Regions from separate parts of the Homo sapiens genome. Here all the other regions are linked to region 1. The links come from fine-mapping of genetic effects on plasma protein levels. Region 1 holds a variant in brackets. A gene starts in each other region. All regions are shown on their reverse strands.

Region 1 (8,180 bases):
GAGGGTCGGGGGACAGGGAGGCGTCTGGCTGGCACTGTGGTCCCTGACCCAGGATCTGGCCCAAACCCTCCACCTGACTTGAGTCGGGGTTTGGGAGGTGGGGGCCAACGAAGACGCTCCCGCCTGGGACTTGAGTAAGCTGGGGGTATGCCGGGTCCAGGAGGCTCAGGCCCCCAGGACCCGGTCCCTTGTATAGTCTCTTTCATCTTCCAGTACCCTGAAAAACAAAAGATCAGGGTATCAAAATCTAAGCATCACCCCACCGCAGATCCTGCCTCTCTTCCTGGCCATGCCTCCTCTGGATTCAGATGCAAATAAAGAAAAGAGGAAAAAACGCAAAACTCCTAACTTAAGATCTTCCCGGTTAACGCGGTCCACAAGGGGCCCTTCAGGGTCTGTGCCATCATCTCTCCCCAGTCCAGAGACAAGGGAAAATGGCTAAGCAGCAGGCCTCAGAGATCTTATTTCTAAGATCACCAGGCCAAACCCAATAGCACTGCCAGGTTCTACGTCTTTATTTTAATACCACCAGGGCTGTCCTTTGAGGGCCCAACAAGGGCAGTTTCTTTCCTCAGGGACATGATAACCGTGGTACTTGAGGAGAATGCAACTTGCACGTGGAAACTGGACTGGAATGGGAGACAGTTCTCTAACACCCTGGATGAACGGGGGGCATGGGAAGGCTGCGGTCATCTCAAGTGCAGATGCCAGGGATATGGTTCAGGGGGCAGAGGCTGATAAACGGGGAAGAACTTTGAAGGAAACTTAAAGAGAACCGAATCAAGACGCTGGGACAGAACGGAGCGCACAAGCCAGGCCGGCCCAGCCCCCTCCTACTTCATCCTCGGGGACCAGAATGCAACCCGGCACCAGTCCGGTCCCACGAGCTTGGATGGCTCGGCGCACACGGGCCTTAAGAAGCCCCTATGCGGGCCTCTGGGCCCCGGTTCGGTGGGAGCGAGGCCCAGGAATGGGAGAGGCCAAGGCAGGGCTGGGGGGAGGGGAGGGGGCGTCCTCACCGGGAGCGGGGAAGCCGGGCGGACGGGCCCGAAGGCGGGCGTCTCCGGCCTCAAGCTTCCCGGCTCATCTCTCCGGCGACGGCGGCGGCCCCGCCACTCCTGCTGTCTTTAGGCGCAGCCGTCTCAATTCAGGATTCCAACGCTTCTGGGCCGCGTGCCGCGCCGCCGAGCACCCCGCCGCGCCGCCTCTGGCTCTGCTTCAGCTTCAGCTTCCACCTCCACCTCCACCTCCGCCACCGCCGCCACCAGCGCCACCGCCGCCGCCGCCACTCCTCCCCCCCTCCTCCTTCCCCTCCCGCGAGCCCCGGGCCCACCGGCAGCGGTGGCGCACGATTAGTACGTCACACCCGGCGAAGAGCGCCGGCGCGGCCACCAAGCGCGCGGTCCCGTCTACCCGAGGACGCCGGCGCCACGGGACTGGCCAGCCCAGAGCGCTACGCGAGGCTGCGCCTGCGCACATCCGCCGCCCGGCCGCGCGTGGCGGCCCCGCCACTTTCCCTTTTGCGCCGCGCTCTGTCTTCTCCGCGCTCGCGGGCCTGACCCTAGCGGCATCCCCAGTACCTTGATCCGGCGGGGGGCGCGCCACAGGAGAGCCAGGAGGGCGGGAGATCCCCGTACGAGGACCGGGCTGAGGCGAGGCAGTGGGGGAAATGGAGCCGGGGTATCATTCATTCTATTTTATTTAACTTTAAGCAGGGCTTGATCAGAAAGAAGAGCTCAGAGGAGTGAGGCAACACCAACACCAGGGCGTACGATACACCCGAGGCTCCTCCGACACCAGTTCCAGCCCGGAAGGGCTTGGAATGGCCTGCCACGCCGGGGCAATGGAGCGCGTGAAAGCCAAACCTTGGGACCCGAAGAGTAATTTGACTGCGAAGGCACCGTCATCGTCGGGCACCCCCTGTAGACGGGCGCATAATAGCTACATCTCTGGAGATAGTGATGGAAACTGGGGTCCGATAGATGGAGAGAAGGACGTAGGATAAGGCTTCTTGTGGGGTGAAGAGGCAGAGGGCACCTGGAGAGAGGTGTGGCATGGAGAACCAGGGGTTTTCCCTAGCAGAGGGCGGCTTCGTGGACTTCGGCCAACCGGCGGGTGCTTCCCTCGAGCGGCCGCTAGATGGTGGTGCTGTTCTGGATGCTTCCAGTGGGCCCCGACCAGGTCTGGACAATGCCTGGCGCCCGTCCCCCGCCCCTCATCTACACACACGCAAGAATTCGGAGCTCCATGGGGAACAGAAGCAAGATATCCGTAAAATCAAAGTCTAGGGGGTGGGAATGAAAAGGGAAAAGTGAGGAACGGGGAGCCAAACCCAGGAAGACGCCTCTGTTCCTGCACATTCCCTCTCCTTTATATACTCAGCTCTTGGCTGTCTCCAGTATGTACCCACCCTGGTCTTCCAAGCTGGGAGCCACTTTTTATAACACAATCACAGTTTCACAAACCCCAGGAAGGTTCCATGTGGAGAGAGGTTAAGTTTCGCCCTTGCCCGGGGAATTATGACACTCAGAATATCCCCTTGGTGTAAATGGAAGACACCTGAGAAAAGAGAGAAAGTAGATTCGCAGTGAAGCACAGCCATCCAGATGCCCTGTTTCCCCCTGCCTTCTCCAGCTCCACCGTTCCTCTGCCTCCTGTAAGGACCCGGCATTCTGCACTTCACTCCTCAGACCCGCCTCTGTTTAGGTTTCCAACCTCCCTCCTAGCGGTAGCTCCCTGCACTGCTACCCCCGGTCAGAGACGTCCTGCTTTCGGCTGCCCACACGGCTCTCACCTGCGCTATAGCAGCTGTTGTAGGCCCGGTCCGGGTGGGAGGGCATACTTCTTATACATCGGAATAGAGTCTCCTGCCTTCCTTGGCCTTCTCGAGACACCACCTGACCCATGGTGAAAGTCACGTCTTGAAACAGGACCTGGCAGGGAAGGGAGATGTTGAAGAAAACAGGATGGCCTGGCTCAGTTCTGGGAGGCCTCAGGAGCGCTAACGAGGGAAGAAAGAAGGGTCTGCTGGGTTTGGTATGAATAGAGGGGTCAGGAACCCTCAGTAGGGGGCCAAAGAGGCCCTCTGTGAAGCTCAGAGTGTGGCTGGGGTTACCTGGCTATACAGCAGATAAACTCCAGCATCCTGGATTCGGACACCATATCCTTGGGCCTGTAGGCCTCTCCCACGCCTAAGAGCTGGTTGCCACATCACCTCTGTCACATCGGAGTCATCTGGAGGTGAGAGTGTGTCGGTCAGGACTTCTTGGCACTCTCAGGTGCTTTTTGGTTCTTTCCCTTTCACCTATAAGGACCCCTTGAGCCCAAGTGCCAGCCCGAGTTCCTGGTTATTGCCCCTCCCCAAAGCCATTATTTAAAATAGTGCTCACCCTTGGAGGTGGCGTTAATGGGAACCAGGTGCAGGACAGAGTGCTGCTCTGAGGAGAGAAGGAGGGAATCTCAGCCGCATCCACTTTCCCCCGTTGTGCTGTTGGCAGCCTCCACCCTCACCCTGACTCGGGCTTACAATCCCCACGCTGCTTGATCACCTCCCACCCCTGCTGCACCCTGGAAGCCTCACTCTTCTGTTTTTGGGTGAGCACTGCTCTCCTTTTCCGGGATCTCTCCCCATTCTCCCAGGCTTCCAGGGCATCGGAACTCTGCTCATGGAAAGAGGGTCAAGGTTAGGTTAAGATGCGAGGGTCCCAGCCAGCCTGCCTTCCCAGCCCTCCCCTGCCCCCGAGATGCCTCAGATCTCTCACGCACCTTTTCCCAGCACCCTGAGTGTTGGTGCTGGCTGCCCTCCAGGATTTGTTAGGTATGAGAAGCATTAACCTTTAACAGTTTCCTTTCCTGGAATGGCCGCGCCCCTGACTTCCAAACCGGAGACCCTCTCTTGCACCCCCTTGAAACTTTGCAGACCAGGAGGCCCAGAGACCCCCCATGCTAACCATCCTCTCCCAGACACCCTCCTCCCCTCACTCACCTGCTCCGGGAGACTCTGCCAGGGATACCCTTCCCCATTCTGGGAGGGGCCTCCTGTCCCCTGCAGCCGGCTCACCTCTCTCCTGAGGCTCTGCAGCTCTGTTTGTTGGGTCAGCAGAGCCATGGCACAAGCCACGGCCCCCAGAGCTGCCCCCCAACTCAACCAGAGGGCAACTGAGAGTGCCGGCTCTCTGACTGGGCCCCCCATGTTGCCTGGAGGCCCTTTGGGGGCTAGCAAGAAAGGAGATGAGGCTGGCATGAGCTGGGGACCCTGCCAACAGCTGTGGTTTCAAGAGTGGGGTAGCAAGGAGGTGGCGGGGCGGGTAAGGGTACGGGCAGTGGTGCAGAAGGGAAGAAGGTTGTTA[C/T]GCAAGGAGAAATAAAAAGGAACTTGAAAATAAAAAGGAGGGAGGAGGAAAGCAAGCTAAGGGTACTGTTAGTGCTCCTGGCACTCCGTCGTGGGGCCAGCGTTGCCTTGAGACCCTCCACCCTCCCTCAGCCTCAGGAGAATTAGGTTCCAGTCCCTCTAGGAAGGACAGGGCTGCCAGTGACACCCAGGAGGAACAGGCAGTGCGCAGGAACCCTGGGGCGGCCCCAGGGTTGGGGGAGGGAAGGTTGGCTGGCTAGAGGGCATTGTGCCAGGAGCAGGATGGGGGGCCAAGCTGGGCAGTGTCCAGGGTCAGGGCGAGGGTGGAAGACCCTCGGGGTCAAGCACAGCAGAGATCGCTGGGGCAGTTCACTAGGGGTGACTGAAGGTGGGAAAGGAGGGGTGGGCTCGATGGGGAGGAGAACCAGGGGCACGGAAGCAAGAAACTGGCTGAGTTCTGGGGTTAAGGCTGGGCCGGGTGTGTTGGAATAAGGCCTGCACTACTCCCTGTGCTGAAATTGGCAAGCAGGACTTCCTGTTTCCCGAGAAAAGCTCTTACATAAGGCTCTGGACGAAGAGACAAAGCAGCGGCCTCAAGCCCCCCGGCCACTGCGGGATTCCTCCCCAGCACACAGGGTTCCGGGTTCCCGTGTGCCTGCTGACTCTCAGCCCCTCCTCCAGGCTGGCTCCTGCCCGCCCCACCTCCCAGCCAGGGCCTGTGCCAGCACCTGCTGAATGTCCGAGGCCACCAAGAGGAAGGGCCCCTGCTCCTCCCAGCCAGGAAGGGATTTCCCCGCAGGAGGAAGTCTGCCTCCTAGGCCAAGGAGGCCGCTTCTGCTGTACCTTGGGCGGAGGATTGATTTTTTTCCTGGGCAGTGTGCCTTCCTACCTCTGCTCCCACCTGGGGGCTGGAGGCATGGAGGTCCCCGCCCCCAAGCCTGAACATCATCCCGGAGTTCCAGCTGTGCCGCTCCGCAACGCCCCCCTTCACGTGGCCCCCAGCTACCCTGAGAGTGTCCCCTGAGCCCCAATAAAGAGAGAGACTATGACTTATTCTATTTAATATCCATTTATCAACATTTTGTCACAATAATAATAAAAATAATATCTGTTTTAAAAATCCACAGGGAATTCTCAAGGGAGGAGCTTGTCTTGTTTCTCGCCCCTCACATTTGGGAACTCCTGGCCTAGGCCCAGTCTCTTTGGCTTCCTGCCGCCAGGTCCAGCCCCTCTTAGTGCCTGAAGTGGGGTCTTCTGGACCCATCCTTGCCCACAGAGTACAGTGAACACAATGCCCTGGGGGTCTGTGGCCAGGGGGGAGTCGAGATCACTGGGGGCCTCAAAGGGTCAGGGATTGGGGAGCTAGTGAGGTGGAGAGTGGGCGGTGGGGGAGTTGTAAGATAAGAGTGGGAATACTGTATTTATGTGGGATGGAAAACACGTGAACAGGCCCAGGCAGCCTCTAGAGGGAGGGGCAGGTCTGGAGCAAAGAGCGGCTGAGGGTGGGGCAGAGGGGACCGGGTGCCCAGAGAGCTGTCGAGGGGAGCCGGCAGCCTGGGACGACTGCGGGGAGACCAGGGCCCCTCAGTGAACCTGGAAGAGTCCGAAGTAGGTGAGGAAGGGGGCAGCCTTGAGATGGGCCCAGGGGAGGGTGCGGATCCGCAGGGAGGACCCTGGCCGCAGGGCCAACAGCCCAGACACCTGGCAGAGGCGGAGCTGGGGCCCGAGGGAACTCGCCGCAGTGGCTGAGAATTCCTCCAGGCAGCGCAGGGCCAGCACACCATCCACCAGCAAGTCCAGCTTCAGGTAGACAGCCTTCCCCTCATCAAAGTGCACCTGGGGTGGGGACAACAGGCCGAGTCCAGGCCTCTGCCTGCCCTCGCCTCAATTTCCAATTTCCTCAGCGACGCAGGCATCCCATCCCACCCAAACCCCAACTCACCCTCCCAGCCCTGTAGCTTGTCCCCCACTCTCCTGGCAAACCCTTCGCCACTCTCTTACTGCGTTACCCATGCAGCCAGATGGGGCTTACCTGACAGTACAGGTAGTAGAGCCCAGCCCGGGTGACTATAAACTCCCCGATCTGGCGGTTGTAGCGCAGAGGGCTGGAGCTGTTGATTCTGGCTTCCTCCCAGCCACTCACTGTCCCGTCCACACCTGAACACGGATGCTCAGAGATAAGGAAACGTCTCTCTACAGGACTCCCCCACACTCCCCAGGGATCCATTGAGCATATGAACATTCGGCGCCCACTTTACCCAGAAGACACATAGATCACCCCGGGCAAGGGAGGACCCATCCCCTATGATGCCCATAGTTGACTAGGAAGTTATGTGAAAAAATCTAATGTATATGGCCAGAGACATTCAGGGCAGATTGTCACCTGCAGTCACTTCTGGGGAGAAGAGTAGAACTGAAGGAGAAGCGTGAGGGGATTTAATGTTTTACTTCATGGATATCTATATTATTTGCTTCTTTTATATGGAGGATGTAAACATACATTATCTGAATTAGTACAACTAAAAATAATAAAATGAAACCCAATTGTCCATCAACAAAATGTCTATCCATATAATGGAATATTATTTGGCCATAAAAAGAGTGAAGTACTGATACACACTATGGCACAGATGTGCCTTGAAAACATCATGCTCAGCCAGGTGCAGTGGCTCACGCCTGTCATCCCGGCATTTTGAGAGGCCAAGGTGGGCGGATCACCTGAGGTCGGGAGTTCGAGACCAGCCTGGCCAACAAGGTGAAACCCCGTCTCTACTAAAAATACAAAAACTAGCAGGGCATGGTGGCAGGCACCTGTAATCCTAGCTACATGGGAGGCTGAGGCAGGAGAATTACTTGAACCTGGGATGGGGAGGTTGCAGTGAACCAAGATCATGCCACTGCACTCCAGCCTGGGCAACAGAGCTAGACTCTGTCTCCAAAAAAAAAAAAAAACAAAAAAAACGCTCACTGGGCATTTTTATTTCCACCAATGGGTTCCCACAACCTGTGCTCTGCAGAGTCTCCAGCCCTGAAGTTTCCTTCCCTTCCTTACCCTGCCAACTGCACCATCTGAACAGCAATAGCCCCTCAAACTCATCTCAACCAACACTGAGCTGACCCCCCTCATCCCACTCTTGCTTTACTGTCTGTTTTCCACATTTGGCTTCTGGTTTTGCCACCAGGGGGATATTCAAGCCTCCCTCTCCTTTACCTACATCATTAATCGATCACCAGTTCCTATCTATCCTGCCTCCTAAATAGCTCTCTCCCCTCTCTCCCCCATCTGGTGCCTCTGTCTGGTTTTCACAGCATTCCCTGTTTCCATTCTGGCTTCCTCCAGTTTATTCCCTACACAAAGCCACAGAATGAGTCTCTAAGATGCAGACGTAAGCCCGCCTCGCCTCGCCTTCCTCCTTCCGATGGCTCACCTCAGAATAGTTCCCACATGCCACCGTGTGGCCTGGCTTCTGTCTCCAGCCTCATCCCCATCTCGCTCCTCTAGCACTTTCTGCTTCTGCCACGCTGAACTTAGAGTCCCCCAGCCTCATCATGCTCTGGGCAAACCCGGGGCTTTTGCCCCAGGGGCTGCTTCTGCTTGCACCCACCATTCTTGACCCCTTGCCTGTCTTGTCTTACGCTCCTGCTTCAAGGCCCAGCGGCACCTTGCGATGCAGGGAGAGAATCCCTGACTCCACAGCCATGTCTGTCTTCCCCTGTGTTGCCAGGTATCTTGGCCACTTTTATTATTGTTCTTGTCATATTCCACTGTAATTACAAATTTTTTTTTGAGATGGAGTCTCACTCTTGTCACCCAGGCTGGAGTGCAGTGGCA
Region 2 (8,180 bases), not on the chromosome of region 1:
TGAGAGGGTCTTACTGCTTAATCTCTGTCCATCATGTCTTAGACCTACAGACAACTTGAGTTCAATGATTATGATGCCCCTCACCTCAGGGATCTGTTTCCATCCAGCTTCCAAAGATGGGCATACACCAGCACAAGCATAGAAAAATAACAAATCTGTATATTGGACCCTCTGCTTAGCAGTGAGAAAGCAGGTTTGAAGACAATAAAGCCAGGCCTGTATGTGGAGATTGGCACCATGACCCTGGATTATGTTTTATGGGATATGCCTCCAAGGGCAACTCTGCATTTATCCCATGGCCTCTGGCTTCCAAATTTTCTAGGCACTTCCCTCTGGGGTAAAGGAATCAAAATTGGCTTATTTCCCTTGCAAACCATCCTTGGCGACTAAGTACTGCCTTGTCTTCTACTGAGAGATGGCCATATTTTTGGCACCTGCCTTTCCTTGTGGGAGGTGTTTCCTCTGTTTACATAGCAAAGGGGCTGTAGGAGAGACAGACGGAGCTGGACTTACAGCAGAACCAAGTCATGATAGCCTGTTTCTATTTTGTTTTCAGCATTTTTCCGCCAGTTCTGGCCACCTCCTTTCCTCTGGAACATGCTGATTTCAGCAAGTCCAGCTCTGTCAGCTCTGCCCCCCGAGTCTATTGGTTTCTGATCATCTGATAATGCTTTGCCTGCACTCAGGACCTGTCTTTGTCCCTCCTCTTAACATACTTGCAGCTAAAACTAAATATTGCTGCTTGGGGACCTCCTTCTAGCCTTAAATTTCAGCTCATCACCTTCACCTGCCTTGGTCATGGCTCTGCTATTCTCCTTGATCCTTGGTGAGTATCTCTGCACCTGTTGGTTTAGGCTTCAGAGTTTTCTGGCACTTTGATTAGGAGAACTTTCTCCCCGCCAACCTGGAACAGATTTAGATGTTTTTCAAGGATGAGCTTCTTCCTCCTTTTTACATTTGGTAACTATTCTAATCCTTAAAAAGCCGCTTAATCCATACACATTTGTAATTCACTTTAACAGATTTTTTTCTATTTTCTTATATTTGTAATGACAGAGTCATGATAGTTTATCCCATTTCTCTTTTTACATAAGTGTTCCTAAATGTACTATTAGTAAGAAGACAAATGAATGGGCACCGGGCAGCAGCAAGTAGAGCCAGGAAAGGAAGTAGAACTGCAAGACAATCACCTTTCATTGATCATATTGTCTGGTTTCCTCTGAAAAGTGTTTCATATAATGTTTTTCTAGTTTTCTTCAGTTTCTCATTGCTTAGAGTAATCTAGAGATTAACCTAGTTAATCTGGTGATTGTGGAGCCAAGGAGACCTGGATTTCAATCCTGCCGTTTTGATTTCTTAGCGGTGTGAATTCGTAGGTTACCATACCTCTCTGAAATTTTGCTCTCTCATCTATGAAGTGAGGATAATATTATGTTCCTCAGAGGTTTTTAGGAGTATTTTTTTTTATAAGATAACTAATATAAAGCATCTAACAATGCCTGGTAAATCCCTATGCTAATCAATCACATCCACTTTTATGTCTTGATGATCTAGTACATCACCAAAGCCCACACAATCCTCTCAACTGGACACTTTTGTGTTCAATGTAAGGTACTGACCACATCTTAAACATCCATGCATCCCCCACATCACTCAACGGCTAGTCCTGCCCCTCATGGATATACTACTGGGTCTTCCAGGCTCATGTGCACTTCCACCTGCTTCATGAAGCCTTTCTGGCCTGTGCCTTCTGCAGTTACCCACCCTACTGCAGAGCTTCCAAGTCACTTACTGGCTATATCACGTTTGCACCTGCATATCAGGCTTGCCATGCTCACTTTCCTTCACATGTACACATGTTGGGTTGGGGTTATGCAATGATTCCCATATGTATAATATAACCTTGAGTTTTGGATAGTTGCAGAAAAGGCCTCATTGAGCCTGAGAGTGGCCACATTCTGAAGATTAAGGGAATGAGGGTAATGAGAGGTTATTTGGAAACCAAGAAAAGAAAATATTCCAGGATAAACCACTGAACTACTTGAATCTGCCTGAAAAACTGTAGGCTGGAGGTCCAAAGATATTTGCACCTTCTGAAAAATCCTATAAGATGGGGGTGGTGGGTGTTTTGCAGTTGAAAATGCATAGGCCTCAGGGACTCCTGGAGGTTACAGGGCCCAGGACTCTCTACAGCATTAGGAGGGACCTTATGGAGAAAGGAGTCCAAATATACAGAGATCCTGCAGGAAGAAACCCCCATGTTTTAAAGACAGGCTGGTGCTGGAATCTGGAGGTTTGGAACTACATATAGAGCTACTTCCTGAGCTATTCATCTAAATCAGCTAAAACAGCCTGCAAGCTGATAATGAGGTTTGTATTTTTAAATGGTAGGAAAAAAGCAAAAGAGAAATACTATTTTATGACACATGAAAATGACAAAAAATTTAAATTTCAGTGTCTAATAAAGGTTTAATGGAACATAGCCGTCCTCACTTGCATACATATATGTGGCTGTTCTCAGGCTACAATGGCAGAGCTGAGTGGTTGCAACAGACACTGTATGGCCCACAAAACTGAAAATATTACTGTCTGGCCTCTTACAGTAAGAGTTTGCTTACCTGGTCTAAATGCTGTGCCGATGAACACAGGCATATCCTGCCCCTTTGCCCTAATTTCTGCTCTGCCCACCATGGCATCTTTACCTCCACCGGCCAGTGCATCTTCCCAGTGGCCTCCAGCACTCTTTCCTGTTGAGCCAAGAGGCTGTATCACCACACTTTTCTTCAGGCAGTAACAACCAATCAATCTAATTGACTAGAATAGAAAACCAATCTATCCACCATCACGTGTGAAGAAAGCAGGCTGAACCAGTTAGCTGTGGTGGAATTGGTCTCTGTGATTCCTAGCCAGTGTCCCTGTGTCCTTGGAGGATGGTCATCCCAGAAGAAGAAGGTCCCAACAGGACTGACATTGGAGGCTCTGCATCTACCACTCTTGTCTCACACAGTTCTGTGAAGGCCTTCTAGAGTTGTGTTCTTTGAATAAAGCCTTGGAAATTGACCTCACTCATTTCCTTCTTTCTTCCCCAGCCATTTGCACCAGACCTGGATTCCTAGGTAAGATTTTTGGGGGTTTCTGAGAGGGAGGCCTCAAGCTTAGGAGAGGGAAAATTTTGAAGCTTCTTGAGCCACAGAGAAAGACTTGTTCAAAACAGGCCCAGCAGACTTCCTTTCTGGCTTCCTACCTCACCCACTCAGTCTTGTGTGGGCAGATTTCCACCTCCAGAATTTAGAAGGGTTTGGGTGGTTTATCCTGGCAGGGGGTACCTCTCCCCACTTGGTTTCTGTGGCCACTTGGCCAGCATCCAAGTAAGAGCTGGGTTCATTTCAGGTCTAGAATGCACTTCACTGCCTTATGGGCATACCTGAAAAATGAACTTCCTTTTGGTTTCTTCCTGTTGGTTTCCAGCATATCCAGGTCCCCCTGCCAGGCTTAATGGTGTCTTTGTTTGAATTAGAAATGCATTGTTGCTTGCAGCACATAGCTTGACCAGCAGAGCATAGGCTGGATTTCCTGCTCGGGGAGTCTTTGGGTAATGCACAAATGATAAACCCAAGGAAAGGGTGCACAGAGAGAATGAGTTTATAGAAGAGGGAGGCTATGGGTTGTGGATTATCAGTTTCTTGTATATTATCCTTCCAGTCTCCCCTTCTGCTTGATCATAGAGACTTTACCAGAGAGGGGCAGCCAGAAACATTGCTATTGGTGTGGAGAATCCTATACCCTGATAGATGCAACCTTCCTGGGTTCTCATCTTGACATTCAGATTAGCCCTTCTGTTTCCTCAAGCTGAATTTCTTGTTTTTAAAAAAGTAATTTTTTTTTATTTATTTCTTCTTTCCCTGAATTTCTTGTTTACTTATTTTTTGTTTTTTATTTTTTATTTATTTCTTCTTTCCCATGGCTATTTTAGTCTTCTACCCCATAGAAAATGAAAATTGATTAAAAATTGAGAATTTTGCAATCAGCAAGGAAAGAAAATATCCTGTTAATCCTGATAGCTAGTATTTCTTGGAGTATGCAATAATGCCAATCCAAACTCTAATGTCAGATACAATGACCCCCAAATTATTTACGGTTCATGCTACTCATGAAGATAAAAACGTTTCTGGATAACTGCTCTTACATTATATTTTTACCCAGATCTATAAGCCTTAAACTCAGTTGTGTGAAAATGAAAACTTTTCTTAGTTTTTTACGGTTTATATAAAAGCCCTATTTTTTATGGTTAACTTTTAATTGCTATCTCTAGCCTCCATTTTTATATTTTTTCCCAAAAAAATTTAAGCAAAGGAAAGAAACTAAAAAACAAATGCATGAAATAAACATAAGCTTCCTGATGCAGTTTAAAATTAGCCAGATTAGGCCAGGCGTGGTGGCTCACACCTGTAATCCCAGCACTTTGGGAGGCGAAGGCGGGCAGGTCACGAGGTCAGGAGATTGAGACCATCCTGGCTAACACAGTGAAATCCCGTCTCTACTAAAAATACAAAAAAATTAGCCAGGTGTGGTGGCTGGCGCCTGTAATCCCAGCTACTTGGGAGGCTGAGGCAGGAGAATGGTGTGAACCCAGGAGGCGAAGCTTGCAGTGAGCCGAAATCGTGCCACTGCACTCCAGCCTGGGCGACAGAGTGAGACTCTGTCTCAAAAAAAAAAAAAAAAAAAAAATAGCTAGATTAGAGTTTTCTCACTGAACTACTTCTCTTGGACTGATTCTAAACTCTGGGGACTTTGTGTGCAGTTGTGACAAGTTAGTCTGTGGGAAATCTGGTCCTCAGCAGTCACGTTCTATCCATGCATGCAACCTGGGTCATCCCATGTGGCCCATGTTGGCCCCTATTAAGCTGTTCATCTTCCAATAGGCCATAGACTTCCAGTCCAAACGTGGCCTCTCCTGGTGCACAAGAACTCTCTCAGCTAACCGTCTCTCTCCATGTAAGCATGGCAAATTCAGCCTCTGCTATATTGCTCTGAGGCTGCAGGAGGCTTGGTGGGATTGCCAAGCTTAATATAAGCTTCTTGAGGGCAGAACTCATCACTGTTCTCTGAGTTCACTAACTAACAAACAAACAAAACAGAAATGTAGTACGCACCTAACAAATGTTTGCTGTCTAATAGGCTCTTCCCTGGTCTCCCTACACAGCCATCTCCACTCTCCTTGCATGTCTTGGTGGAAGGAAGAAAATTTCTGTTAGTCTTTTCTTTTTTTCTCTTTTTTTGAGATGGAGTCTTGCTCTGTTGCCCAGGCTGGAGTGCAGTGGCATGATCTCGGCTCACTACAACCTCCAAATCCTGAGTTTGAGCGATTTCTGGCTAATATTTGTATTCATTTATTTATTTTCTTTAGTAGAGACAGGTTTTCACCATGTGGTCCAGGCTGGTCTTAAACTCTTGACCTCAAGAAATTCACTTGCCTCAGCCTCCCAAAGTGCTAAGATTACAGGCATGAGCCATCACACCCCACCTCTGTTAGCTTTTGTACTTCCAGAGTTCTAGTCATGAAACTGAATCAAGTCCTAGATTTCTCACAACTTATCTGGAGACTCCATGAATCCTCTCTTATGCTTCTAGTCCCTGGAATTAGACCAAACTCTTGGGGCTCTGAGACTCTGACTCTTCCCTTTCCCTATGCTCTGTATTTCTCCTGAGATGGGCGCTTGAACAAGGAACAATTTCATAGGAAGCAGCAAGTATGGGCATGGATTGGCCACTGAGAGTGAGAGATAGTTAGGCTGTTCAGCCCGAATTGTACACACTCTGCCTCAATCTGACTTCCATGGAGAGAGACAGAGTCATGAAGAGGAAAAACGCAACAGATATTCTCTTTACACCTCTGTTCTGGCCTGGAGCTTCCACTTTTGGACAATGTAGCCATAGGACCATAACTTTCATGAGGATGATTTTCCTCATCTGTGAAATAATGGGGTGGACTTTATGATCTCTTTAGGGCCTTCTGATTCTGACCGCCAGAGAATCTAAAACTCTGCTGGATCTTCAACCAACCTCTTTTCCTTAATCTTCAATCTGAAAATGCCAGCAGTCATGTCCAGGTATCTTGAAGTAGAGTTTCTTGACAGGGTACCATTAAGGCTGTAGCAGAACCAGAACTCAGACACGGAGTTCTGAAGCTCCTCTTCCTTCCCTTTTCTTCTGATCCCTTATTTCTAGTTCCCCAACACTCTGCACCATTTGAATGGTGGAAGAGTCCCAGATTGACTGAGTACATGCCTAAGGACCCTCTGAGCTCCTCTCAGGCCTCTAGCTAACAACCCGTCTCTTTGCAGCGTCTCCATCTGGAGTGCGGCTGGTGGGGGGCCTCCACCGCTGTGAAGGGCGGGTGGAGGTGGAACAGAAAGGCCAGTGGGGCACCGTGTGTGATGACGGCTGGGACATTAAGGACGTGGCTGTGTTGTGCCGGGAGCTGGGCTGTGGAGCTGCCAGCGGAACCCCTAGTGGTATTTTGTATGAGCCACCAGCAGAAAAAGAGCAAAAGGTCCTCATCCAATCAGTCAGTTGCACAGGAACAGAAGATACATTGGCTCAGTGTGAGCAAGAAGAAGTTTATGATTGTTCACATGATGAAGATGCTGGGGCATCGTGTGAGAGTGAGTATGGCAGGGGTCCCGGACCACTTGCCAGCTGCCATACCCCTCACGGCCACTCTTGTTGGTCTTCATTCCCTACCATAGACGTTCACACAATGGCTAATTGGCCCCTCACCCCCCACATCTCATACTTTCCCAACTGTCAGTGCTGGAGATAAACAATATCCTCACCTAGAACTGCAATTCCTACTTGGTTGAGCAAATGCTTTCATCTTAGTTTCAATCTATATGAGAACTTGTTTCTCTTATTTACACACATGCCAACATGCACACCACTAAACATTTGTTGAATAGAGTATACTGTATCTGGAGCTGGGCATGGAGTTATGGGGGAAGAAATGAGCTCACAAAGTATAATGTATGCTTTTTAAAAAATAGTTTCAGTTTTCCAGGAGTTTATCTTCTAATCAGGTAGAAAGGAGATACTCATAGGAAACTAACACAATCTAATAGACAGGTGGATAGATGATAGAAAGATACATAGACAAACGGATCTGTGCTCCTTTACTTCCCCCCACATACTTGCTTTATATGTATGAGTAGTCTCTTCTCTTTTGTTCATTAGACAGCGATGTGATTGAGGAGCTAGTCCATGGCTCCTCTTTGTCTGCCCACAGAATTTGTTTCTAGGGAAACAGTCACTTTTTGCCTTGACATTGAAGACTCAGTCCTATTTTTTAGAAAGATTGAGGGTTGGGAGCACTAATCTGAGATATTTAGTTCATAACGCCAACAATGAACCAAAAAGCATTTGGTGTTGGATATATCTTGTATGTTATTGTATTTATTTTTAAAAGTCTATACAAGATCTCTTGTGAGGATCAAATGACAAGTTGAACATGAAAACAATTTGAAAAATTAAAATGCTACAGAAATGATAATGATTCAGCTTTGAATTTGGAAGTTACATTTTCTTCATTGATTCCCTCATTCATTCTTTCAGCAGGCATCTATGAGGCAGTGTTAAGCACTTTAGCATGCCTTGTACTGAACACCAAGAACTGTGAGATGTGTCCATTGGGCCGCCTTTACTGAGAAGACCATGTTCTGGCAGAGAACAGACACGCTCTCTTTCTTTCCCCTCAGACCCAGAGAGCTCTTTCTCCCCAGTCCCAGAGGGTGTCAGGCTGGCTGACGGCCCTGGGCATTGCAAGGGACGCGTGGAAGTGAAGCACCAGAACCAGTGGTATACCGTGTGCCAGACAGGCTGGAGCCTCCGGGCCGCAAAGGTGGTGTGCCGGCAGCTGGGATGTGGGAGGGCTGTACTGACTCAAAAACGCTGCAACAAGCATGCCTATGGCCGAAAACCCATCTGGCTGAGCCAGATGTCATGCTCAGGACGAGAAGCAACCCTTCAGGATTGCCCTTCTGGGCCTTGGGGGAAGAACACCTGCAACCATGATGAAGACACGTGGGTCGAATGTGAAGGTAATGCCTGTGCGTCCAAAGACTAGGTTTATTCATGGATTTAATTATGTGGAATCTCATTCAAACAGTATTTACAAAGAGCTACTA
Region 3 (8,180 bases), not on the chromosome of region 1:
TGCTATTGTGAATAATGCCGCAGTAAACATACGTGTGCATGTGCCTTTATAGCAGCATGATTTATAGTCCTTTGGGTATATACCCAGTAATGGGATGGCTGGGTCAAATGGTATTTCTAGTTCCAGATTCCTGAGGAATCGCCACACTGACTTCCACAATGGTTGAACTAGTTTACACTCCCACCAACAGTGTAAAAGTGTTCCTATTTCTCCACATCCTCTCCAGCACGTGTTGTTTCCTGACTTTTTAATGATTGCCATTCTAACTGGTGTGAGATGATATCTCATTGTGGTTTTGATTTGCATTTCTCTGATGGCCAGTGATGGTGAGCATTTTTTCATAAGCCTAAGTAAGTACCTTTACCAGTAAAATCTTCCAAACATTTAAGGAAGAAATAACATCAGTCGTACACAAACTCTTCACGAAAATAGAAAAAGAAGGAGCTTGCTTATGAGACCAATATAATTTTGTTACTAAAATTCATCAAGAAAGAAAATTGGTCCATCTTCCTCATGAACACAAATGCTAAAAAGCACAGCAAATTTATAAGTCAAATTCAAGAATATATAAAAAAGATAACACATCATGGCCAAGTTGGAATGCACAGTTGATTTTACATTTATAATCATCCATGTAATTCATCATATTAACAATAAAAGTAAATAATCATATGATCATATTAATAGAGGCAATAAAGGTATTTACTGAAACAGCATCCATTATTTAGGAAAAAAGGAAAATTTCTTAGCAAATTAGAAATATAAGGAAAGGTATTTAATCTGATACATAGTATTCACCAAAAAAAATTACAGAAAATATTATATTTAATATTGAAATATTAAGAGCTTTTTCTGTGAGACTAAGACAGGACACCTGATATTACCACTTCTCTTTAGTATCATGTTTGAGTTCCTAGTCAGTGCAATAAGTGAGAGAAAAGGAAGTTTAAGTATTAAAAATAATGAATAAAACTATCATTATATGATTGTGTTTGCATGAAATCTAAAATAACCTAAAGATAAACTATTAAAATTAATAAGTAAATTCCGCAATTTTAGTAGATATTAAAAGGTCAGTAAGGCCGGGCATGGTGGCTCACGCTTGTAATCCTAGCACTTTTGGAGGCCAAGGCGGGCAGATAACTTGAGGTCAGGAGTTTGAGACCAGCCTGGCCAACATGGTGAAACCTCATCTCTACTAAAAATACAAAAATTAGCTGGGCATGGTGGCAGACACCTATAATCCCAGCTACTTGGGACGCTAAGGCAGGAGAATCGCTTGAACCTGGGAGGTGGAGGTTGCAATGAGCCAAGATCGCACCAGTGCACTCCAGCCTGGGGGACAAGAGCAAAACTCTGTCTCAAAAAAATAAAAATAATGGTCAGTAAAACAAAAAAGTATTATATTTCTATATACCAATATACATTTAGAAAAAAATCTAATGATGTCACTTACAATATCATAAAAAACATATCAATAACCTAAGGATAAACCTACCAAAAGATATACTTTCCAGAGGCAAAGCTATAGAAAATTACTGAAAGAATGTCAAGTTAACCTAAATAAATGAGGGGATATTGTATGTTTATGGATTGGGAGACTAAATCTTTTCTAATTTATACAAATTAACTTATAAATCCAATGCAATCCCAGTTATTAAAAATCTACTAGGCTTTTGGGGAGAGAGGGGACAGGAATTGACAAGGTGATTTTTAAATGTATAGAAAAATTCAAAAAGCCAAAAATAGCCATAACAATTTTGAAGAAGAACAGCATTTTATGACTTAAACTATCAGTTAATAAGAGTTATTATAAAGCCACAATAATTAGAAGAGTGTGGTATTGGCATGAGGATAGACAAAATAGACTAATGGACAAGAAAGGAGTTTCCAAAAATAGACCTACATGGCTTTTTGTTTTATAACAAAGGTGAAATTGCACTGTACTGTGGAAAAAATCAACTTTCAATAAATAGGGCAGGATAAATTATCTGTATTTAAGTTAAAAGTGAATATAAACACTCAAACTGTACACAAAAATCAATTGCAATGCTCTTATAAATATAAAATAAATGGTAAAAAATAAAGTTTCTAGAAGATAACCTGGGAGAGTATCTTTATGATCTTGGAGTAGACTAACTTTCTTAGAAGGGATGCAAAAATCTCTAACCACAAAGGAGAAGACTGATAAACTGGACTATGTCAAAGTTAGAATGGTTGTTCATCAAAAGGCACTATCAATGAGCAAAGAAGCAAGCCACAGATTGAAGGAAGACATTTGCAATACATATATCCAACAAAAGGTTTATATTCAGGGTTTAAAATAACTACAAAACAGGAAAAGAAAGACTGAAAGTTAAGAGAAAAATGAGGAAATATTTGAACAGAGATTGCACATAAAAAGGATATCTACATCACCAATTAGACTATGAAAAAATGCTCATTCTCAAATTCACCAGAGACATACAAATTAAAACCACATTGAGATAATTCTAGCAGAACGGCCAGATTTTACTAGATGACAATACCAATATCAGCAAGAATTTTAGAACAATGATAACTCTCATACATTGGTTGGTGGGTGTGGTGGGAATTGGCACAACCACTTTGGAAAATAATTTGGTAATACTTCCTAAACTGAATATATGCATACCTTATGAGCCAGGACTTCCACTCCCAGATATATACCCAACAGAATTATGTGCGCATATGCCCCAATAAATGTATACAAGAATGTTCATAGCAGCACTATTTGTTTTAGCACCAAAAGTAGGTAAAGATTCTGTGTTCCCTTTGAAGTTCTCCTCTTAATCTCTATTCACCCCTGTAACCCCTGTATGGTTTTCTTGCCTCAGGGTGCAGTGGGTCAGATGTGACATAATATACCTAAGGTGATGTGCATTTGTAGATATAAAATTAAATGCCCCCTTAGGAAGACCAAGGTATGGGCCCAGAGAGAAAGGGTGAGAAAATATTTGAAAGAAAGAAACTGGCACTCCTCGTGGCAGCTAATGTCTTAGGAACCTCTGTTGACCAGTATACCAGGATGGAAACTTGACTTTTAGAAAATCATAAGAGCTATACATTCACCTGGTAATTTTTTAAAAAATCAAACGGTACAGAAATACATAAAATAAATTGTGTTCTTCCCACCTATTGCTCCTCAAACATAATCAATATTTTTGTGTGTACTTTCCAGGAAAAGAAGAAAGTATACTTAAAAGAGTTGATGTACACATATATCCTATTTTTTATATTTACCCAATGGGATAATACTACAAAACCAATCTATATCTCACTTTTATTCTCTTCACATCAAACAAGGTGGTCTTCCCTTCTTGGCATGTTCAGATTTACCTTATTCTTTAATGATTGCTTGTCACCATACGGATGAATCAGAATATTCTTAAACAGTCCCCATATCATGGTTTTTTGTTTTGTTTCCAGTGTTTAGGCAATAATGAATGCTACAATAAACGTTCTTATAGTACTCTCTTCAGATACTTCCTTCAGGGTAATTTCCCAATAGCAAAAATGTAGGGTCAAGGGTATTTGATTTTTTAAAACCTTAACTTTTTTTTTTCTTTGATCATCGGGTAGGAAACTGTGATTAGCAGCTGAAGACGGGTACTCCCACTTCCTTTTTTCAATTCACTAATGCATTCTGCTCTTTTTGAGAGCACAGCTTCTCAGATGTGCTCCTTGGAGCTGGTGTGCAGTGTCCTGACTGTAAGATCAAGTCCAAACCTGTTTTGGAATTGAGGAAACTTCTCTTTTGATCTCAGCCCTTGGTGGTCCAGGTCTTCATGCTGCTGTGGGTGATATTACTGGTCCTGGGTGAGTAAAAGGGCTCACCATGGGCCCTGGGTGGGATCGGGACAGCTTCTCTCTCCACCGCAGGCCTGGTCCTTTCTTGGGGCTCAGCCCCTGCTGAGAGACTCTCTCCTACATTAGGAGACTGTATTTTTGAACTTTACTCTGTAGCTCAGGGCTTTCTCTTGAGGCTGAAGAAAATGGCCACAGCTGGAAGGAATTTTCAATCTTACAGAGTAGGAAACCACAATAACCACAACAATTAAAATTTCATTTATTTTTTTCTTTAAAAAGTACTTCTTAAAGTCCAGAGAATGTTTCATGTTTGTTTGTTCATATTGTCTTACTCATAGAAGAGCCCACTCTCCTCTCTGCAGAGGAGATGTATTTATTCCTTGTATGACAAGGCCAGATCCTGGTCCCCAGCATAAGAGGCAAGGTTTCTAACGGGAAAGACAGGTCTTTCTCTTGTACATAATTGCAAACCACTGCAGCAATTGGCTGATTAAGAACATGGGGTGGAGGAGGTCGCAGAGGCGTAGGTGGACAAAGCAAGGATAAATCTAAAGCATATGACTTTCTCTTTGTCCCTGTGGGTGTACGTAAGTCTCTATCAACTCATATGTGCGAACTGGTTGATTTTTACTAAAGGTTAAATATTATAATTAAATATGTTTATTTATTTGTTCAGCAAATGTGTTTAGTAATATCTATGCACAGGTGCTGAGCAATTAGAGTCCATAGGAGACACTACGTCTATGTTCTGGAAAGTCATGACATAGAAGGGCTCCCAGCAAGGCCAATGTACTTTCAAGCAGCTATGCAACAAGCTCCCAGTTAAATAATTGTCCAGGCAAAGTTACCAATGAATGCTGTAGGCAGATAATAAACTGTATTCAAAATAGCTAGTAAAGACTTCATGAAACTTAGAGGTGAGTAGGAGCTAGAGGAGCAGAAATGGAGCAGGCGTGATATAAGAAAAGAGGACCTCACAGTTGGAAGGTGCATGGACTATAATTCCTGAAGTAGGAATACATCTCAGTGTGGCCCCACACAATGTGGGTAATGGCCAGGTCCTGAGCATGAGAGGGCAAAGTTTATAACATGGGCTCTGGGGTCAAACAGGATCTAGGTTCAAACTTCATCTTGCCACCTACTGGCTACCAGATTCCTGGTCTACAAAATGCAGTTAATCCTAGTGCTTACCTCACAGGATTATTGACATGGTTATATGAAATAACCTACGTAAATGCAGACCATATAGAAACCACTCACAAAAATATTAGCTTCATTTAAAACAATGCAAAGATGAAGGAAGCCAAAATATTCAGGTGAATGGTGAATAATTTGTTGTTCTCAGTAAAACACTTAAGTTTGGATAAGTCTCCAATAGCCTCATGTGGACAGGGATGATTTGTCTCTCACACACTCCTGGATTTCTATTGCCTTGCTCTGGAGTATGATTGGCATTCCAAAAATCTGTTGAATAAATAAATCAACCCATATGCAGAATACCTACTCAATTGATAAACCTGCCAGTTTTGTGTCCTCTCTCTCTTCATTACCCATTTCTCAAATCTCTATCCTTCTATTCCTATATTATTAACCTAGTTCTTTAATTAATTCATTATACAACACAAATATATTTAGTGAACATTAAAGGAATATCTTTTATATGCCATTCACCGTTATAGGTCCTGGAGGATATATGGTGAACATAAGGAAAGTCCTAGGTCTCATAGAGCTTGCATTATAGAGAAGGGAAAATAAACAAGCAGATAATGAAGATAATTTGGATAAATACTCTGACAAAAATTACACATTACCATCTCTTGGGCTGAGCATCAGGTCTAAATAATCTGAGCATCAGTTGATTGTTTAAAAATTAGGCATGATGATAATGAGCCCTTGGATTCAATGATCTCATGAAAAGAGTATAGCCTGGAGTCTGGTGCCCAAGGGAGGCTTAATTCATGTCCATTTCCTTGCCCTGCCTTCTAATCAGTCTCCCTGCTTCATATTGTCCCATTAAATTCTGTCCACTGACAGAGTGCTCCATCAAAGTCTGAAATTCTAACCTTGTCAATCTCCTCCTTGAAACCATTCCATGACTCCTTATCACTTTTATAATAAAATTAGAACCACTTACTCAGGCCCTGCATGCTTCTCTGGTCTTATTTCCCCCAACACTCCCAGTTCCTGAGCACCAATGTCATTTCTCCACTTCTGTGCCCTTTCTACCTTGAAAGGTAGAAATCGCCTCTTACCACACACAAATGCTAACATCCACCTGCAGACTCATGTTCTCACTCACAGTTTTGTGAAGTATCATCTCCTTCAGGTACCTTCAAGGATCCACCCATCCTGTTCAACACATGTACACACAAACACACACTCTACACACACACATATATCCTACACACTGGGCTAGTGGCCCTTCTGCCCCCAACATACCCCATGTGTATTTCTGTTATTGCACTTACACCCTGTGTTATATTATTTTAAATCGTGTTTCTGTTTTTCCACTAGTCAACTTCTTGATGGCAGATACCATTTTTAAAATTCATTGTAGAAGTCCAAATACCATGCCATATATATATGTATATATATGTATATTTATGTGTATATATATACATTTGATGAATAATTATTAGAGTTTTTAAATGAATTTTTTAAAGGGACAAGTAATACATGCATGGGTAAAAAAGGGAATTATCTTCTTAAAACAAAATAATCATGGTTCTGTGCTCATCTCTGGCTCTTATTTTTTTGCAGCTCCTGTCAGTGGACAGTTTGGTGAGTTCTCCTGTCTTTGGCTCTTCAGCGTCTCTGGTTAAGAGTGTCTCTTCCTAATAAATAGAAAACATTTGTGATGGCTGCCTGAGATCTCCAATATCTCCTGTTTTCTTTCCTTTTTTTTATTATACTTTAAGTTTTAGGGTACATGTGCACAACGTGCAGGTTTGTTATATATGTATACATGTGCCATGTTGGTGCGCTGCACCCACTAACTCGTCATTTAACATTAGGTATATCTCCTAATGCTATCCCTCCCCCCTCCCCCCACCCCACAACAGGCCCTGGAGTGTGATGTTCCCCTTCCTGTGTCCAAGTGTTCTCATTGTTCAATTCCCACCTATGAGTGAGAACATGCGGTGTTTGGTTTTTTGTCCTTGCAATAGTTTGCTGAGAATGACAGTTTCCAGCTTCATCCATGTCCCTACAAAGGACATGAACTCATCATTTTTTATGGCTGCATAGTATTCCATGGTGTATATGTGCCACATTTCCTTGATCCAGTCTATCATTGTTGGACATTTGGGTTGGTTCCAAGTCTTTGCTACTGTGAATAGTGCCGCAGTAAACATACGTGTGCATGTGCCTTTATAGCAGCATGATTTGTAGTCCATTGGTTATATACCTGGTAATGGGATGGCTGGGTCAAATGGTATTTCTGCTTCTAGATCCCTGAGGAATCGCCACACTGACTTCCACAATGGTTGAACTAGTTTACACTCCCACCAACAGTGTAAAAGTGTTCCTATTTCTCCACATCCTCTCCAGCACCTGTTGTTTCCTGACTTTTTAATAATTGCCATTCTAACTGGTGTGATATGGTATCTCATTGTGGTTTTGATTTGCATTTCTCTGATGGCCAGTGATGATGAGCATTTTCTCATGTGTCTTTTGGCTGCATAAATGTCTTCTTTTGAGAAGTGTCTGTTCATATCCTTCACCCACTTTTTGATGGGGTTGTTTGAATTTTTCTTGTAAATTTGTTTGAGTTCATTGTAGATTCTGGATATTAGCCCTTTGTCAAATGAGTAGATTGCAAAACTTTTCTCCCATTCTGTAGGTTGCCTGTTCACTCTGATGGTAGTTTCTTTTGCTGTGCAGAAGTTCTTTAGTTTAATTAGATCCCATTTGTCAATTTTGGCTTTTGTTGCCATTGCTTTTGGTGTTTTAGACATGAAGTCCTTGCCCATGCCTATGTCCTGAATGGTATTGCCTAGGTTTTCTTAAAGACTTAAATGTTAGACCTAAAACAATATCTCCTGTTTTCTTGCTGAGGTCAGCAGGGATTTCAAAGTGATGCCTGGTTTTTTGGCATCGTCCAAGGGCCAGGATAGCTTCATGGTCACCCTCTGACCCTCCCTGGGGGAAGGGGTGAATGCCCAAGCAGCTCCCAGCCTTTGCTAAGCCCTGCATTTACTATTATTGCCAACAGACCCCATTTAGCCAGGCAGGACATCTTCAACTCCATGGCAAGTATATTGACTCAGGATAGGATCCTCTCAATCAGCGAGCCAGAAAAATACCCTGAAAATATCCCACTGTGCTGATGCCAGCAGGAATGCTGCATTCTC

Alleles and levels. Alleles are on the strand shown, and positions count from the first base shown. The strength of an association depends on the size of the effect and on how common the allele is.
As copies of T replace C in region 1, the plasma level of the protein whose gene starts at base 692 in region 2 goes down (weak association).
As copies of T replace C in region 1, the plasma level of the protein whose gene starts at base 3,654 in region 3 goes down (weak association).

Evidence for each region. A credible set is the group of variants that fine-mapping cannot tell apart. PIP is the chance, under the fine-mapping model, that this variant and not a neighbour inherited with it causes the effect. Protein levels are from antibody-based Olink assays in UK Biobank. Linkage for the fine-mapping came from a reference panel and not from the study's own genotypes, which makes the PIPs less certain.
Region 2: CD5L starts here. The variant in region 1 is the best candidate, but not a certain one, in a credible set for the plasma level of the CD5L protein (UK Biobank, PIP 0.81).
Region 3: FCRL5 starts here. The variant in region 1 is the best candidate, but not a certain one, in a credible set for the plasma level of the FCRL5 protein (UK Biobank, PIP 0.54).

The regions. Positions count from the first base shown.
Region 1 is chr17:7,555,103-7,563,282 of GRCh38, reverse strand. TNFSF12-TNFSF13 (TNFSF12-TNFSF13 readthrough) reads right to left here. Exons shown (of 11, transcript NM_172089.4): 6 at 6,381-6,505; 7 at 3,581-3,659; 8 at 3,390-3,437; 9 at 3,116-3,234; 10 at 2,795-2,933; 11 at 1,682-2,559. The coding sequence ends at 2,450. TNFSF12 (TNF superfamily member 12) reads right to left here. Exons shown (of 7, transcript NM_003809.3): 6 at 6,381-6,505; 7 at 5,402-6,184. The coding sequence ends at 5,933. TNFSF13 (TNF superfamily member 13) reads right to left here and starts at 4,533. Exons shown (of 6, transcript NM_003808.4): 1 at 3,986-4,533; 2 at 3,581-3,659; 3 at 3,390-3,437; 4 at 3,116-3,234; 5 at 2,795-2,933; 6 at 1,682-2,559. The coding sequence starts at 4,243. The coding sequence ends at 2,450. It overlaps SENP3 (SUMO specific peptidase 3), which reads right to left and starts at 1,364. Exons shown (of 11, transcript NM_015670.6): 1 at 1,020-1,364; 2 at 1-217. The coding sequence starts at 206. It also overlaps SENP3-EIF4A1. RefSeq lists enhancers at 1-594, 1,861-2,110, 4,485-4,534, 5,345-5,404, 4,990-5,783 and 1 more and a silencer at 1,221-1,300. The variant C/T (reference allele first, on the strand shown) is at 4,350.
Region 2 is chr1:157,834,320-157,842,499 of GRCh38, reverse strand. CD5L (CD5 molecule like) reads left to right here and starts at 692. Exons shown (of 6, transcript NM_005894.3): 1 at 692-826; 2 at 3,090-3,116; 3 at 6,345-6,665; 4 at 7,752-8,093. The coding sequence starts at 799.
Region 3 is chr1:157,547,989-157,556,168 of GRCh38, reverse strand. It overlaps FCRL5 (Fc receptor like 5), which reads left to right and starts at 3,654. Exons shown (of 17, transcript NM_031281.3): 1 at 3,654-3,837; 2 at 6,589-6,609. The coding sequence starts at 3,807.